Linked DNA regions of Homo sapiens. The protein of the gene in region 4 purifies or fractionates together with the protein of the main gene of each other region. This does not show direct contact. Each region holds a gene or a part of one and is shown on either strand. Other genes may lie near its edges.

What was found. The genes of interacting proteins can lie anywhere in the genome.
Region 1: the proteins of SS18L2 (region 4) and ARID1B purify together in Homo sapiens (affinity purification with mass spectrometry; one large-scale study listed by BioGRID and IntAct). This does not show direct contact.
Region 2: the proteins of SS18L2 (region 4) and BCL7A purify together in Homo sapiens (co-immunoprecipitation; 2 studies listed by BioGRID and IntAct, with this or other methods). This does not show direct contact.
Region 3: the proteins of SS18L2 (region 4) and BICRA purify together in Homo sapiens (affinity purification with mass spectrometry; one large-scale study listed by BioGRID and IntAct). This does not show direct contact.

The regions. Positions count from the first base shown.
Region 1 is NC_000006.12:157,207,378-157,211,279, reverse strand, and holds the end of ARID1B (AT-rich interactive domain-containing protein 1B), read right to left. Parts: coding exon 3,389-3,902; 3' UTR 501-3,388; downstream 1-500. UniProt on the Homo sapiens protein: Involved in transcriptional activation and repression of select genes by chromatin remodeling (alteration of DNA-nucleosome topology).
Region 2 is NC_000012.12:122,024,884-122,028,383, reverse strand, and holds part of BCL7A (B-cell CLL/lymphoma 7 protein family member A), read right to left. Parts: intron 1-3,500.
Region 3 is NC_000019.10:47,689,134-47,692,633, reverse strand, and holds part of BICRA (BRD4-interacting chromatin-remodeling complex-associated protein), read right to left. Parts: intron 1-3,500. UniProt on the Homo sapiens protein: Component of SWI/SNF chromatin remodeling subcomplex GBAF that carries out key enzymatic activities, changing chromatin structure by altering DNA-histone contacts within a nucleosome in an ATP-dependent manner.
Region 4 is NC_000003.12:42,593,689-42,597,588, forward strand, and holds the end of SS18L2 (SS18-like protein 2), read left to right. Parts: intron 1-733; coding exon 734-821; 3' UTR 822-3,246; downstream 3,247-3,900.

The DNA.
Region 1 (3,902 bases), on a different chromosome or scaffold from region 4:
CCAAGTTCTTCTAGGCTGGTGCTGAGCAGGACTTCAGGCAGCTGGGCCACGGCCCTCGAAATAAAGAAGTGAACCAACACTCAGCAAGAAGAACAGGGACTGTTTGCACTGTCCATTTGTGGCTCATTTATAATACTTTCTTTGCTTCCTCAAAGGTGAACAGACATGGGAACAGGTACATGTGGTTTGATAGGAAATGAAAGATTTCCAACAGTTTTAAATGGATGGACTTCAGGGCAAAGGCTGGCTTCTTTTCATAAAGGAGGTAGTTAATAGCTTACATTGTATGAGACTGCCCATATGCCCTTAAAAAAATCATTCTTCATTATAACTCTGAAAAAACAGCTTAACTAGTCTTTGAACAGGCCACCTTCATCAGTAAAACATGCTTCTATATCATTCTCTTCCTCGAACAAAACACTGTGAATAGCTATTGCTGAGCAGACGCCGCCCAGTATCTCTTATGTGACATTAAAAAAATCCACTCAAATACCAACAGATTCAACTTTATAGCACCATTCCAAAATACTAAACTTTCTTTGCACCTTTATTTTTTATCTTTTTTTTTTTTTTGGTACACATGTAAAGTCTGGGCATCCTGTAAATTTCTGAAAAGCCTCATAGAAAAAAAAAAACCGACTAATTTTTAGGACAAAGCAATAACTCAGTTTATAGGCAAGATGATCTCAAGCAGGCTGTAAATTCTTCGTGGGCTTCTGTAAATCTTGATTCGGGGGTGAGAATATGGAAAGGAGGCTAAAGTCTTCCTGGATTAGTCTCTAGAGACTGTGTTGCGCATCAGGATAGAAAAACTTGTTGCCCAACGGTCAGACTCTGCGTATCGGTTACAATGCAAACCATAACAACAGTCTTTTGTTAATTATTTTACTCTTCTGATTGACAAAGGAATTGGAATACTGGATATGTTCGGAGTTTGTATACACCTTTTATTTGTACTCTGTAAGAGAGAAATTAGAATAATATTGAATTCCCTCTTACAAATCTCCATATTTGAAGCTTGGAGCACTGAAATCTGTTCTTAGCAAGCAGATGTATTTAAAGCAGAATTATAAATGGGTCTTTAATTCAACATATATTTGGTTGCATTGTTATGTAAGAAGACTGTTTGACTCAGTAATGTGGGAGTTGACAGATGAGAGACTGTTTGCAGAAAAGATGATTTTTTTCCTCGTGACACTGGAGAGTCACGTCTCACAATGACTGTAACTGCATGTTCTTGTCTAACTCTTCCATATATTACTGTGAGTAATGTGAACCGACACAATGTATGCGAGGGGCTGGGGATTCTGAGTATACTGTGATTGGGAGAGGGAAGAGAAGAGGTAGAGGTCCACTAACAGCATAATTATGCAGCAGTTTCAAAGAAATCGATTATTACACAGTAACAGTCAATGACCCAGGAAGAGAAAGTTTAAATTAGAAGTGACTAGTATTAAAAAGCTACTGTGCACCAGGTAGGAAGGAATATGAGAACCATAATATGCCCTGAAATAGAAATCATCACTTTGCACTATGTACACCACATACAATATAACAGATTCTTTTTTAACATTGCACAGTATAAATATTATACACGGTGGAGTAAACTAAATGCAAAATAACTCTGAGGCACACAGAAGAAACAAGGAATAGATTGAACTTTGATTAAACTAAGATGGAGTTAGTAAAAGGCAGAATGTTACATTTTCAGGCCAGTTAAGCTTCTGAGATCTCACCTCAAGTGGGTCAGCAGCCACCTCCCATAAATACTGAAAATGATCATACCTCAATGTCGTTAGAGTTAATTGCTTCAAAGAAAGACTAATTAGCTAAGTAATTTGAGAAAATCAAACTGTTGCTCCCCACTCTAAAGTAGGTAACCCCTAAAGGTCTCTTCCAAATGTAGGGTTTTATAATGTGAATACACTGCTGCATTCCCCTATTTCTTGTAAATAACTTGATTACTAGGAAACCACTTTAAGGAAACTAGAACAGTATTCAAGAACACCCATCACAGTGCTTAACAAGATTTAATGTACATTTATTCTTAACATGTGGAACATATAAAGATTTTATACTGAATAAATGATATTCATTAAGCCAGAGGAAAAGGAGGAATTTACATCAAGTTTTTTTCTTTTTTTTTTTTTTAAACTACATTATCTTGAAATACAAATGTGGATTCTCATCACTGAAAAATCTTTGAAGTTGTGTTTCTTCCTTTTAGTTGTATTTTTTTCATTTTCTCTTTTTTGACTGTACTGGTAACCATTTTCTAAATCAATCCATATATAACCATTTCCACACCTTGATTCATGAAGCAAATTGTGATCAGCTGCTCTCCTGAAATCGAGCATGACTTTATACATACAGAAACTTGTACATTACCCTCTTTTTTTTTTGTTTTTGTTTTTTGTATTTTTTCTTTCTTTTTTTGGAGATATGGCCCTAATGAAAAAATATATAAAATAAAAATAAAAAATTATTTAAATCTACCATCACTTCGTAGTTACCACATCATGAAAAAGAAACTAAAACTTTGTACTAAAAAAAAAAAAAAAAAAGAAAAGAAAAAAATGAGGGTATGTTTAATGTACAACTTCTATATACATCACAGCCCATAGGCAGTAAAAAAAATATTTAAAAAATGATGAAAGGAATTGTGAAGAACTGTCACGTGGAAGGTCAAACGCCGACAGCAGGCATGACGGGAGTGGTGAGGAGCAGTTTCCGGATCGTTGTCAGGTATGTATTCTCAATCTTAAAAAACATTGTTTTTGCTCCCAGCCTAATGGAACCATATTCCTGTGGAGAAACCAGTATCATTTCATAGTTTTGACTACTGACCGACATACCTCCTTGAGCCCCTATACCTGTATCTGTAGAAATTTCTATTGCACAGAACTTTGGGTGATGGGATGCAGTTTTTTTCATTCTCTGAGGAGTAAAACGCATAGGAAATGGATAATTTTTCACCTTTTTGACTCAGTGTGGTGAAATTTTCGCATCTTAGCATCTTTTGCCACAACTTTTTTCTTTAAAGTCAATTTGCTTCCCCCAAAAATGCAATACAACATGGGAAAGAACATTAAAAAGATCTGTGAAGAACAAAAAGTGACCTTTGAATGCACTAGACAGCAACTTTGGTTAAAAAAAAGAGAAAAAAAAAACCCCAAAGGATGTACTTATACACACAGACAGCAAATATTAATTTCATAACTGTTCAAATTAATTATTTCTTTAATTCCCAATTGGTAAATAGTGAATGGGGCAGAGGAGCAAAGATTTTCTTTTCCTTCTTCCTACGCTGGATAAACAAGAACAGAAAACAGCCAGTTATATGTGACCCTCTAATCTTCACTCACACATGCTTGCCTTCTCACTTATGTCATAACTGCCCAATCTGAAACAGTACATCACAGATGACAGATGCAACCAGAGAGTTCAGGACAGCTGATATCGAGATATCCAGCAACCGGCCCTCGTGCAAAAGGAATTCCGAGCGGTTTTCGTCCACTCTGGCCATGGCTAGCAAAGCCTTGGCCGCCCTGCACATCATGTCTACGCTAGGTGGTTCCAGGGGCGGGGGCTGCATGTGCATGAGGTTGTGCTGGCTCTGCTGGTACTGGGCCATCGTGACCCCATCCTCTAGGAAGCTTATCAAGTTTCCAATGCTTCCTTTCTGCACAGCTATGGCCCTTGCTGCTAGTGCGTCCCCTTGGGCAAGGTTCGATAAAAGCGCCATGGACATTTCTCGACAGACTGGGTTTTTGCGATCCCCAACGTACCTAACTAATGTAGCATAGAATTTCTCCTGACGACTAAATGGAGGAGTGGCCAAGATCAGGTCCACATTATTGTCCTGGATACTGAGTTTACAGAGGGTCTCCAGCACAAGTCTC
Region 2 (3,500 bases), on a different chromosome or scaffold from region 4:
TTCAGGGCAGAAAGTGTGCCAGAGATCTGGGCTTTGCGGCCGCAAATCAGCCAAGATGCAAGTTTGCAGCTGCTTCCCAGCGAGGCTCGAGGCCACCGCAGGCTACAAGCTGAATGCAGCCAGGCTTTCGTGCCTCTCTTTGCCCCAACTGGCAACCTCTTCACCGAGTTCTCAAGTTACCCCAGTGATGAGAAACTGTATTTCTAGGTGTGGACATTGAGGGGACTCTGGGACAGAGGCAAGAACATTAAGAATTCTACCTCTGAGCTGGACCTATGCTCAGCTAAGCAGCCACCCGGAGGGGCCATGGAGCTCAAGTTTAAGGCACCAAGTGAGCACCCAGGAGGACATGGGATTTCACAGCCACAGACACACTGGGTGGGCACACGGGTTCAGCGGAGCAGCTGAGGTTTCCCACAATTGCCCCCCAAAACCATCACCACAGAACACATACCCCTCCCCAAAAAAGGGCGTTGCTCCTCTTCCCCAATGAGGGTATTAAGCTATACTCATCACTTTCTTATTTTTTTATTTTTTTTATTTTTTTGAGACGGACTCCTGCTCTGTGGCCCAGGCTGGAGTGCAGTGGCACAATCTCGGCTCACTGCAACCTCCGCCTCCCGGGTTCAAGCGATTCTCCTGCCTCAGCCTCCTGAGTAGCTGGGACTACAAGCACATGCCACCACGCCCGGCTAATTTTTGTATTTTTAGTAGAGACGGGTTTCACCATGTTGGCCAGGCTGACATCAAACTCTTGACCTCAGGTGACCCACCCGCCTTGGCCTCCCAAAGTGCTGGAATTACAGGTATAAGCCACTGTGCCCAGCCTATTTGTTATTTTTTTGAGATAAGGTCTCCCTCTGTTGCCCAGGCTGGAGTGCGGTGGTGCGATCACTGCTCACTGCAGCCTCGACCTCCTGGGCTCAAGTGATCTTCCTGCCTTGGCCTCCCAAAATGCTGGGATTACAGGTGTGAGCCACCACACATGGGCCCCACTTTATATTTAGGATGGCAAACAACCAGTCAACAGGCGTGTTTTGTTTGGCCTGCACAGTACTTTAAAAATGTTAAATCTGCTGCCAAACTTCAAACAAACAAACAAACAAACAACAAAACAGGCTTTGCATAAGAATCCAGACTTCTGGCTACTCTTGAAAACATGACCTGGGCCCACATGCCCCAGGGAGCGACAGCTTGCCCCAGATGGGCTCTCTGGCCCCCCTCAGATGCCCTCACTCTTGACACCTGTAAGCACCAGGTGCAGAAATCCCCACAACCACCAGGCTGCAGCCCAACTTGCTGCAAAGCTGGCCCTGGGTGTGCCCCGCGCCTCCTGTCTTGGCGGCCCCGTCACCTTACCCTGACTTCAACACCTTTCCCTTCCCATTACACTTGAGCTTCTGGGAGGAAAGGAAAAAATGAGGTCCCAGCAGTAGGAATATAGCCCCAACTGCTCCTCCCCAGCACGGACTCCTATATAAACTACAAGAATCCATCCCAGATTCTCCAGGCTAAGGCCAATTTCGAATGTTCTCCTGTGTCCAGGTCCAAGGGTTAGCCAACAAGACCATCTTAGGGTTACCCACCACTCAAGGGGACCCTGCTGACTCCCTCCAGGAAAGCTCTACTCCCTGTCCTTGTACTCACTCCTCATGGCTAGTCCCTGTCACCTCAAGAGGCCTGGCCCATGGCTGGCCTCACCCTAGCTAGGCCCAGGTCTGCCTGACCTGCCATGTGCCCAGTAGGAATGTCTCCATGATGAAACCTCTGGAGGAGCTGAGGTGAGGGAGGCCTCAGGCCCAAACCTCTACCTCTCCTGGGACAGACGGGAGCTCTTCAGGCACAGACCTTTCTCAGTCCTCACAGCAAGTCATTGAGGGAACCCTCAGACCAGGTGCTAAGGGGTCCTGGGCCTAAGCCTACTTTTTTTGTTTGTTTTTTGAGACAAGGTCTCACCCTGTCACCCAGGCTAGAGTACAGTGGCACAATCGTAGCTCACTGCAGCCTCAACCTCCTGGGCTCAAGTGATCCTCCAGGCTTAGCCTCCTGAGTAGCTGGGATTACAGACGAGGGTCACCATGCCTGTCTAATTTTTTTCTTTTTTTTTTTTTTTTTTTGAGACGGAGTCTCGCTCTGTCGCCCAGGCTGGAGTACAGTGGTGCAATCTTGGCTCACTGCAAGCTCTGCCTCGTGGGTTCATGCCATTCTCCTGCCTCATCCTCCCAAGTAGGTGGGACTATAGGCGCCTGCCACCACTCCCGGCTAATTTTTTGTATTTTTAGTAGAGATGGGGTTTCACTGTTAGCCAGGATGGTCTCGATCTCCTGACCTCGTGATCCTCCCTCCTCGGCCTCCTAAAGTGCTGGGATTACAGGTGTGAGCCAACGTGCCCGGCCTTTTCTCTTTTCTTTCTTCTTTTTTTTTTTTTTTTTTTTTTGAGATGGAGTCTTGCTCTGTTGCTCAGGCTGGAGTGCAGTGGCGCGATCTCGGCTTACTGCAACCTGCGCCTCCCAGGTTCAAGCAATTTTCCTGCCTCAGCCTTAAGAGTAGCTGGGATTACAGGCGTGTACCACCACATCCAGCTAATTTTTTGTATTTTTAGTAGAGACAGGGTTTCACCATGTTGGCCAGGCTGGTTTCCAACTCCTGACTTCAGGTGACCTGCCTGCCTCGGCCTCCCAAAGTGCTGGGATTACAGGCATGAGCCACTGCGTCCAGACTAATTTTTCTTTTTTCTTCTTCTTCTTTTTTTTTTTTGAGATGGAGTCTCGCTCTGTTGCCCAGGCTGGAGTGCGGTGGCGCAATCTCCGCTCACTGCAAGCTCCACCTCCTGGGTTCCCGCCATTCTCCTGCCTCAGCCTCCCAAGTAGCTGGGACTACAGGCGCCCGCCACCACGCCTGGCTAATTTTTTTGTATTTTTTTAGTAGAGACGGGGTTTCACCATGTTTGCCAGGATGGTCTTGATCTCCTGACCTCGTGATCCGCCTGCCCGGCCTCCCAGAGTGCTGAAATTACAGGCGTGAGCCACCGCGCCCGGCTCTTTTTTTTCTTTTTCTTTTTTTTTGGTTTGAGACCCAGGCTGGTCTCAAACTCCTGGGCTCAAGCAATCCTCCTGTCTCAGCCTCCCAAAGCTCTGGGATTACAGGCGTGAGCCACCGCAGCGGGCCTCCAAGCTTACGCTGCAGCCCAAGCTTTCGTCTCCTACCATCGCCCTGGGGTCTTCTCTCCTCCACCAGCACAGGGCCCCCAAACCCTGGCCCAGTTTCCCAAAAAGAGGCCCACCATTTTGTTTTCCCTTTAGCCATCTTCTGGTCACCTCACCTCCACTGGCCTGCCTTGCTGAAACACCAGAAAAAGAGAACAGGAGGCAGCCTGCCCCAAATGAGAGGGAGGCCACAGCTTTTTCCGGGGGTGGGGGAAGCATCAGGGGACAGTGGGTGGGTCGGGGGGGTAATTTTAGGGGTCACTAGGGCTGAGGAGAAACCCACCCAAGGCTCAT
Region 3 (3,500 bases), on a different chromosome or scaffold from region 4:
CTGGTGGGACTGCCTCCTGGAAGGCAGCTTGGTCTGGGGACTTTGAAAGGGTCACAACTTTGACCTGGAAATTCCCCTCCAGGAATCTGTGATGAAGAATATTCGGCCGGGCACGGTGGCTCACGCCTGTAATCCCAGCACTTTGGGAGGCTGAGGCGGGCAGATAACCAGAGGTCAGGAGTTCGAGACCAGCCTGATCAATATGATGAAACCCTGTCTCTACTAAAAATACAAAAATAATTAGCCGGGCATGGTGGCATGCACCTGTAATCCCAGTTACTCAGGAGACTGAGGCTGGAGAATTGCTTGAACCCAGGAGGCGGAGGTTGTAGTGAAATGAGATCGCGCCACTGCACTCCAGCCTGGGCACAAGAGTGAAACTCCGTCTCAAAAAAAAAAAAGAATATTCAAGTACTTGCTATGGGGTTGCCCACTTTGGGAGCATTTACAATAGAGGAAAAGGAGAAATGACTCAAATGGCCAATGGCAGGTGCGTCGCTGAGTCGGAGAAAAGAGAACTGGCCCACTCAGTAGGTTCCAAGGGCTCAGGGAGGTGGCCCACATGCAGCGGCACTCCAATGCTACATGAAATAGGAGAATAATACAACATTACAGGATCCCTGGGCACCTGGTAAAGTTGGATTATGGACAGAGGATATGACAACAGTATCATGTCAATGCTGTCTGCTTTATTTCTTTGCAGTATGATGGTTAAGTAAGAGAATGTCCTTGTTCTCCAAGGCTGAAATATTATACTAAAATATTAAGGGGTAGGCTGGCCGCGGTGGCTCACGCTTGCAATCCCAGCACTTTGGGAGGCCAAGGCAGGTGGATCACTTGAGCCCAGGAGTTTGAGACCAGCCTAGTCAACATGGTGAAACCCCATCTGTACTAAAAACACAAAAATTAGCAGGGTGCGATGTGTGCCTGTAATCCCGGCCACTCAGGAGGCTGAGGCAAGAGAATTGCTTGAACCTGGGAGGCAGAGGCTACAGTGAGCCAAGATTGTACCACTGCACTCCAGACTAGGCGACAGAGTGAGACTCAGACTCAAAAATAAATAAATACATAAATAAATAAAATAAAATATTAAGGGGCAAACGGGTATAATGGTTGCAACTTACTCTCAACTGATTCAGAAAAAAGTGTACACAGAATGAGAATGCTAAGGTCAAGGCAGATGTAGCAAAAGGCTGACAATGGGTAGACGTGGGAGGCAGCCACCAACAATCCTCACCTCCTTGTGTTCAGTCCCCTCCCATATGCTGGTCTTTGTGGCCAATAGAATTTGGCAGAAGTGATTATATGACACTTCCAAGATTAGTTATAAAAAGCCTGCGGCTCCCATCCTGAGCATTCTGTCTGTTTCTATTGGGTCACTCACTTTGCGGGAAGCCAACCGCTGTGTGTCATGTGCTGCCCTTTGGAGAGGCCCACTGAGGAAGCAATTGAGGCCTCCTGCTAATAGCCACACAAGTGAGCGTGGGAGCAGGTTCTCCAGATCAGTGGGACCTTCAGATGACCACAACTTCATGGGAGATCCAGAGCTAGAACCTCCTAGCTAAGCTGCTTTCAGATTCCTAATGTTTAGAAACAGTGTGAGACACGTGAATACTTGCTGTTTGAAGCTGCTAAGTTTTGAGGGTAATTTCCTGCATAGCAATAGATAACTAATACATCTAGTTGAGGAGTAAAGAACTCCTATGAGCTCTCTGTACTAATTCTGAAACTTTTTATGTGTTTGAAGTCATTTAAACATAAAAAGCTTAAAGATACCAAAAAATTAAAAAAATTTAATTTCATTCTCATCAAAAGTGCGCACACACACACACACACACACAATCCACAAATTAAGTCACATGCCAAATGACTTACTGGGGAAAACAGTTGCAACTCCAAATACAAAGTTCATCTCTCTCATATATAGAGAGACTCTAGAAATCACTAAGAATTACAACTGGTGAAAAAGGGGCAAAGGATATGATCAGACAGTGCACAGAAAAGGAAAGACAAAAGGCTTAAGTATTTTCAGAGCTACTCAACCTCACTTGTAATAAGAGAAATGCACAGCAAAACGCACCCCAGGGCACTATTTTTCACCCTAGGGTACCATTTACCACCCGTCGCATTAGGAATAAAGCCTATGTCTAGTAAAGATGCTTGTATATACTGCCCTTAGGGGTCTCAACTGGCACAATTTGCTACAACTCAAGAGGAACGCAATTCAGCAGTAGCTATCCAAGTTATAAATGCACATTTGCTTTAGTCCAGCAAACAGGCTTCCAGGAAGTAAACAGACCTGCATATGTGGGAAATAACAGGTGAACAAGTAGGCCGGGCGCGGTGGCTCACACCTGTAATCCCAGCACTTTGGGAGGCTGAGGCGGGTGGATCACCTGAGGTCAGGAGTTTGAGACCAGCCTGGCCAACATGGTGAAACCCCGTCTCTATTAAAAATACAAAAATTAGCTGGGCATGGTGGCGTGCACCTGTAATCCCAGCTACTAGGGAGGCTGAGTCAGGAGAATTGCTTGAACCTGGGAGGCGGAGGTTGCAGTGAGCCAGTATCACGCCATTGCACTCCAGCCTGGGCAAAAAGAGCGAAACTCTGTCTCAAAAACAAAAACAAAAACAAAACAGGTGAACAAGTTGTTTCCTGCAGCTTCGTGTAGAACGCCAAAATCTGGATATGGTCTAAAGTGCATCAATATGGCATTTCCTGGGGAAATGAACTGTGGCTCTTCTGTACAAAGGAATACTTCAAGACTCTAACAGAAAACAAGCAAACTCACTGTTGCTGCCACAGTAAGTACATAATGAGCTCCCCTTTGGGTACAAATGGGAGAGAAACGTAAACCATATTTGCACTAGGTTGTATATACACGAAGAACTGGAAAGGGATACAAAAATTAGGCCAGGTGGCCAGGCGTGGTGGCTCACGCCTATAATAATCCCAGTACTTTGGGAGGCCAGGCAGGCGGATCACCTGAGGTCAGGAGTTCAAGACCAGCCTGGCCAACATGGCGAAACCCTGTCTCTACTAAAAATACAGAAATTAGCAGGGCGGGATGGTGTGCACCTGTAATCCCAGCTACTCCGGAGGCTGAGGCAGGGAGAACTGCTTGAACCCAGCAGGCGTAGCTTGCAGTGAGCCAAGATCTTGCCACTGCACTCCAGCCTGGGCGACAGAGAGAGACTCAGTCTCAGAAAAAATAAATAAAAATAAATTAGGCCAGGCTCAGTGGCTCATGCCTGTAATCCCAGCACTCTCGGAGGCCAAGGCAGGAGGACTGCTTGAGCCCAGGAGTTCAAGACCAGCCTGGGCAACAGAGCAAGACCCTGTCTCTGGAAAAAAAGAAAAAAAAACTTTCTGATGATCATACTATGTGAATAAAATGACTTATTTAAAAAATGTTTTAAATAAAATTGGGGTCGGGGGGTTAAACAGAAACTTCATACCAAAATATTACTTCTTCTACAATATTTGTCTTAGAAAAAAC
Region 4 (3,900 bases):
ATAAGGAAATGTATAATTAGGCACATAATAATAAGTGCTTTGAATAAGAATAAAGCAGAGTAAGTGGGGGGAGGAGTGCTATTTTATACATGGTATGTCTGATAAGGTGATATTTGAGTAGAGACCTGGGGTAAGGGAGCCAGCTATGCAGTAGTAAGGCATAGTGAGATAAGTAAGACAGAGAAAGCATCAGGTGGAAAAGCCCCCTAGTAGGAGTGTGCCGGATATCTTCAAGTCACAGAAGGAGGCCACTGTGGCCAGTATTCAGTGAACAAAGGTATAGCCATAAGAGGTGAGATCAGAGGGGGACTGGAGGCCCCCATCATGTAGGGCCTTATTAGGACACAAGAACAGCTCACCTTTACCTGAATGAGATGGGAGCCTTTGGAAGGTTTTGAATAGACATATAACATGATTTTGATTTAAATTGTACAGTAATCTCTCAGGCTGTTATGTGGAGAATAAAGTAGGTGCGCAAAGATAGATCTGGGAGACTAGGTGTCTACTGCAATAGTTCAAGCAAGAAATGATAGTAGCTATGAAAGTAATCAGTAAGAATGGGTGAGAATCTGACTATATTTTCCTTAAATATGTTAAACAAGAAGGTTGATAACACTGAATCATCCAGTCAGTGGATGAGCCATTCCACTAGAGTGGGTAAATTATTTTCCAGTTTTTTGTTCATGGTCGGTAAAAACAAGCCTCTGATTTTTGCCTGTTTTTTTGCCCATAGGTACCAGCATGTGTTACATAGAAATCTCATTTATTTGGCTACCATTGCAGATGCCAGTCCAACCAGCACTTCAAAAGCAATGGAATAATCTTTCAAAAGCAATAGAATAATCTTCCATTTGGCTGTCGTGAGGAGTAATTGAATGTAATCCATCTCTTACAAAATGGAGACAGGGTCTTTACCAACTCAACTGGTTAAAACATGAATGAAACCTCTGTGGCTCTTTCGAAACGTGAAAATGTGAAGAAAGCTACTAACTTAGCTGTATTCTCATGTAAATATTTTTTAAATAATTAAGCAAATCCCTCAATAAGTTGAGCCCAGGTGTCCTCTTTCCTGAACTTGGAGCATGTTTGGATAACAAAGACATCACTGGGATGTTCAAGTCTACTTTTTAGTTTCAACCTGAAGAGGAAACTCAGTAGGTGTTGGGCAGGAATTGGTGAGATTCCTGACTTGATACCTTGCTAAATGGACATGTAACTGTGTGCTCCTTCCTATCAGTTTGTAAATGTGGTCCCCCTGACTGCTGTTTTCAGATTGCTTTGAAATAAAGCTTATTTTTCTATAAAATACTGATGTGGAGGTATAGAAGTTTTCATGTAATAAGTATTCCATTTGGTTTTCAAGAATAACTGTGAGGACTTAACCATAAAGTATATAAAAACAATACTATTATCATTGCCAACAAAATGAATAGTGATTTCTAATTATTATCTAATATCATCTGATAATAGATGATGTTTAATTTTCTTCAGTTATCAGATAGTCTTTTTGTTGATTTGTCTGAACCAGAATCCAAATAAGATTCACATGTTGTATTTTGTTGATGTTCCTTTAAGTCACTTAAAGAATACTTAATAGTTCCTTTTTTTCTTTATTTGTTGAAATAACTAGGTGTTTACCCTAGAATTCTCTCGTGTTCTACATACAGTTGTATCTCTGTAGTGTTGTTAATTATGTGCCACTATCATCCACTTTTCCTGTAAACTAGTAGATCTAGAGGCTCATGCAGACTCATGTTCTAATATTTTTAGCAGGAATATATTAGAAGGTGATAAGTACTTGCTTTTGCATCACATAAGGAGTGACCTGACTTTTAAGTTCCCAACCAGCCTTTCACTTAAATTATGATCCACCCAGCTTTGATGTGGTAATTCATTAGGGATTACATAATGAGGATTTTCTAATTTATCATTCTTTCTGACTTTATTAGCTGTATTCTATAAAAAACTTTCACTCTTGGAGATTTATCTGAAAGATGAGGCAAAGGGATTCTTGTAAGTATATCCAAAATTAGAAGCCCAGGTCCCTGCTCCTTTTTTTGGAGTCAAGGGTTGCAACCTAGGGCAACTGTAAAATACATGTAAATAGTGAAGAGATAACTCATTTTGAATCCCAGCTCTATCCCTTAACCTCTGAAAGCTCTGTTTCCTCACCTCTAAAGTGAGGATAATGAAAATAGCATCTGCCTCCTGAGGTTGTGAGACTGAGATAACGTGGTTGAGAACTGGGCACATGTTAATCTATGTTAGCACTAATGTGCTGAGGGCTCTGGCTCTTTCTTTTTTCTTTTTCTTCTTTTTTTTGGTTTTGTTTTGTTTTGTTTTTGTTTTTGTTTTTTTTTGAGACGGAATCTCGCTCTGTCGGAGTGCAGTGGTGCAATTTTGGCTCACTGCAACCTCTACCTCCTGGGTTCAAGTGATTCTCCTGCCTCAGCCTCCCAAGTAGCTGGGATTACAGGCATGTGGCACCATGCCTGGCTAATTTTGGTATTTTTAGTAGAGACGGGGTTTCTCCATGTTGGTCAGGCTGGTCTCGTACTCACGACCTCAGGTGATCCACCTGCCTCAGCCTCCTAGAGTGCTGGGATTACAGGCGTAAGCCACCGCGCCCAGCCGATCATTTCTGTTTTCTAGAAAATTATTTTGTCTGTTTCCCCACTAGCATTCCTGATGGTTTTCCAGAGTCCTATCCCCTGAAGTTCTAATTGCTGGCATAATCACACTCTAAAAGGCTGAACCCCAGAATCATTACCTGAAAATTCGTACTACCAGTGGTTCTTCTTCATGATAAATCATGGACAAATTAAGCCTGAGTTTGTAAACTCTTTGGATACCAACTTTCTACCACTCTTGGAAGAGATGGAGGAGGTGTCAGTCATTTTGGTTGATACTAGCCCTAGGCCTGCCTTGTCCCAGGAGTTTCTTCACCTTAATCACAGACCAAATTGCATACTTTTATCTTCGAATCATCTAAAATATAATTTCAAATCACAAGACAGAATAAAATAATCTTTGAGAGAGGCAGAACCTTAGAAAGGAGATATTTTATCTCATTTATTTTACAGATGAAGAAAGTAAACTTCAGAGAGATCAAAGTGATTTGTCTCAGGTCACATAACCAGTGGCAGAAAGAAGAGAATTGCTGGAATGTCAAGATAAGAATGAATTCTAGGTTTAAAGTTGTTTAAGTATATCCCAAATTAAATATTTCATTCCTGAGCTCTAAAACCTATTTACATTGAAGCCTGATGTCCTAAACACGGTAATTACAAAGCTGGGTAATGGTCTCCATCCTTTCCTTTCATGAATCCATGTATGAAAGTTAGCTTTATCAAACTATTTCATCTCCAGAAAGGCATGTACATTTCATACTGTTCAAGTCTGTAATTGTCAGCAAAATCAGACCCAAGACCGCTAGCTTCTCAATTCAGCCTACAGACTGCTCCTCTAATAGACACACTGGACTCTCAGGGAGGTAGAATGGGCAAGCTCTAACAAAGGACAGCACTTCTGTGATGGTGTGGAAGTACCAAAGGTTTGACTGTACTTTAAAAAGGTGACATGGACGGCTGGGTGCAGTGACTCATGCCTGTAATCCCAGCACTTTGGGAGGCCAACGCGGGCAGATCACAAGGTCAGGAGATCGAGACCAGCCTGACCAACATGGTGAAACCCTGTCTCTACTAAAAATACAAAAAAATTAGCCAGGTGTGGTGGCGTGTGCCTGTAGTCTCAGCTACACTGGAGGCTGAGGCAGGGGAATCGCTTGATCTCAGGAGGCAGAGGTTGCAGTGAGCCAAGATCGTGCCACTGCACTCCAACCTGGGCGACGGAGCGAGACTTTGTCTCAAAAAAAAAAAAAAAAAGGTGACATAGGTGCAG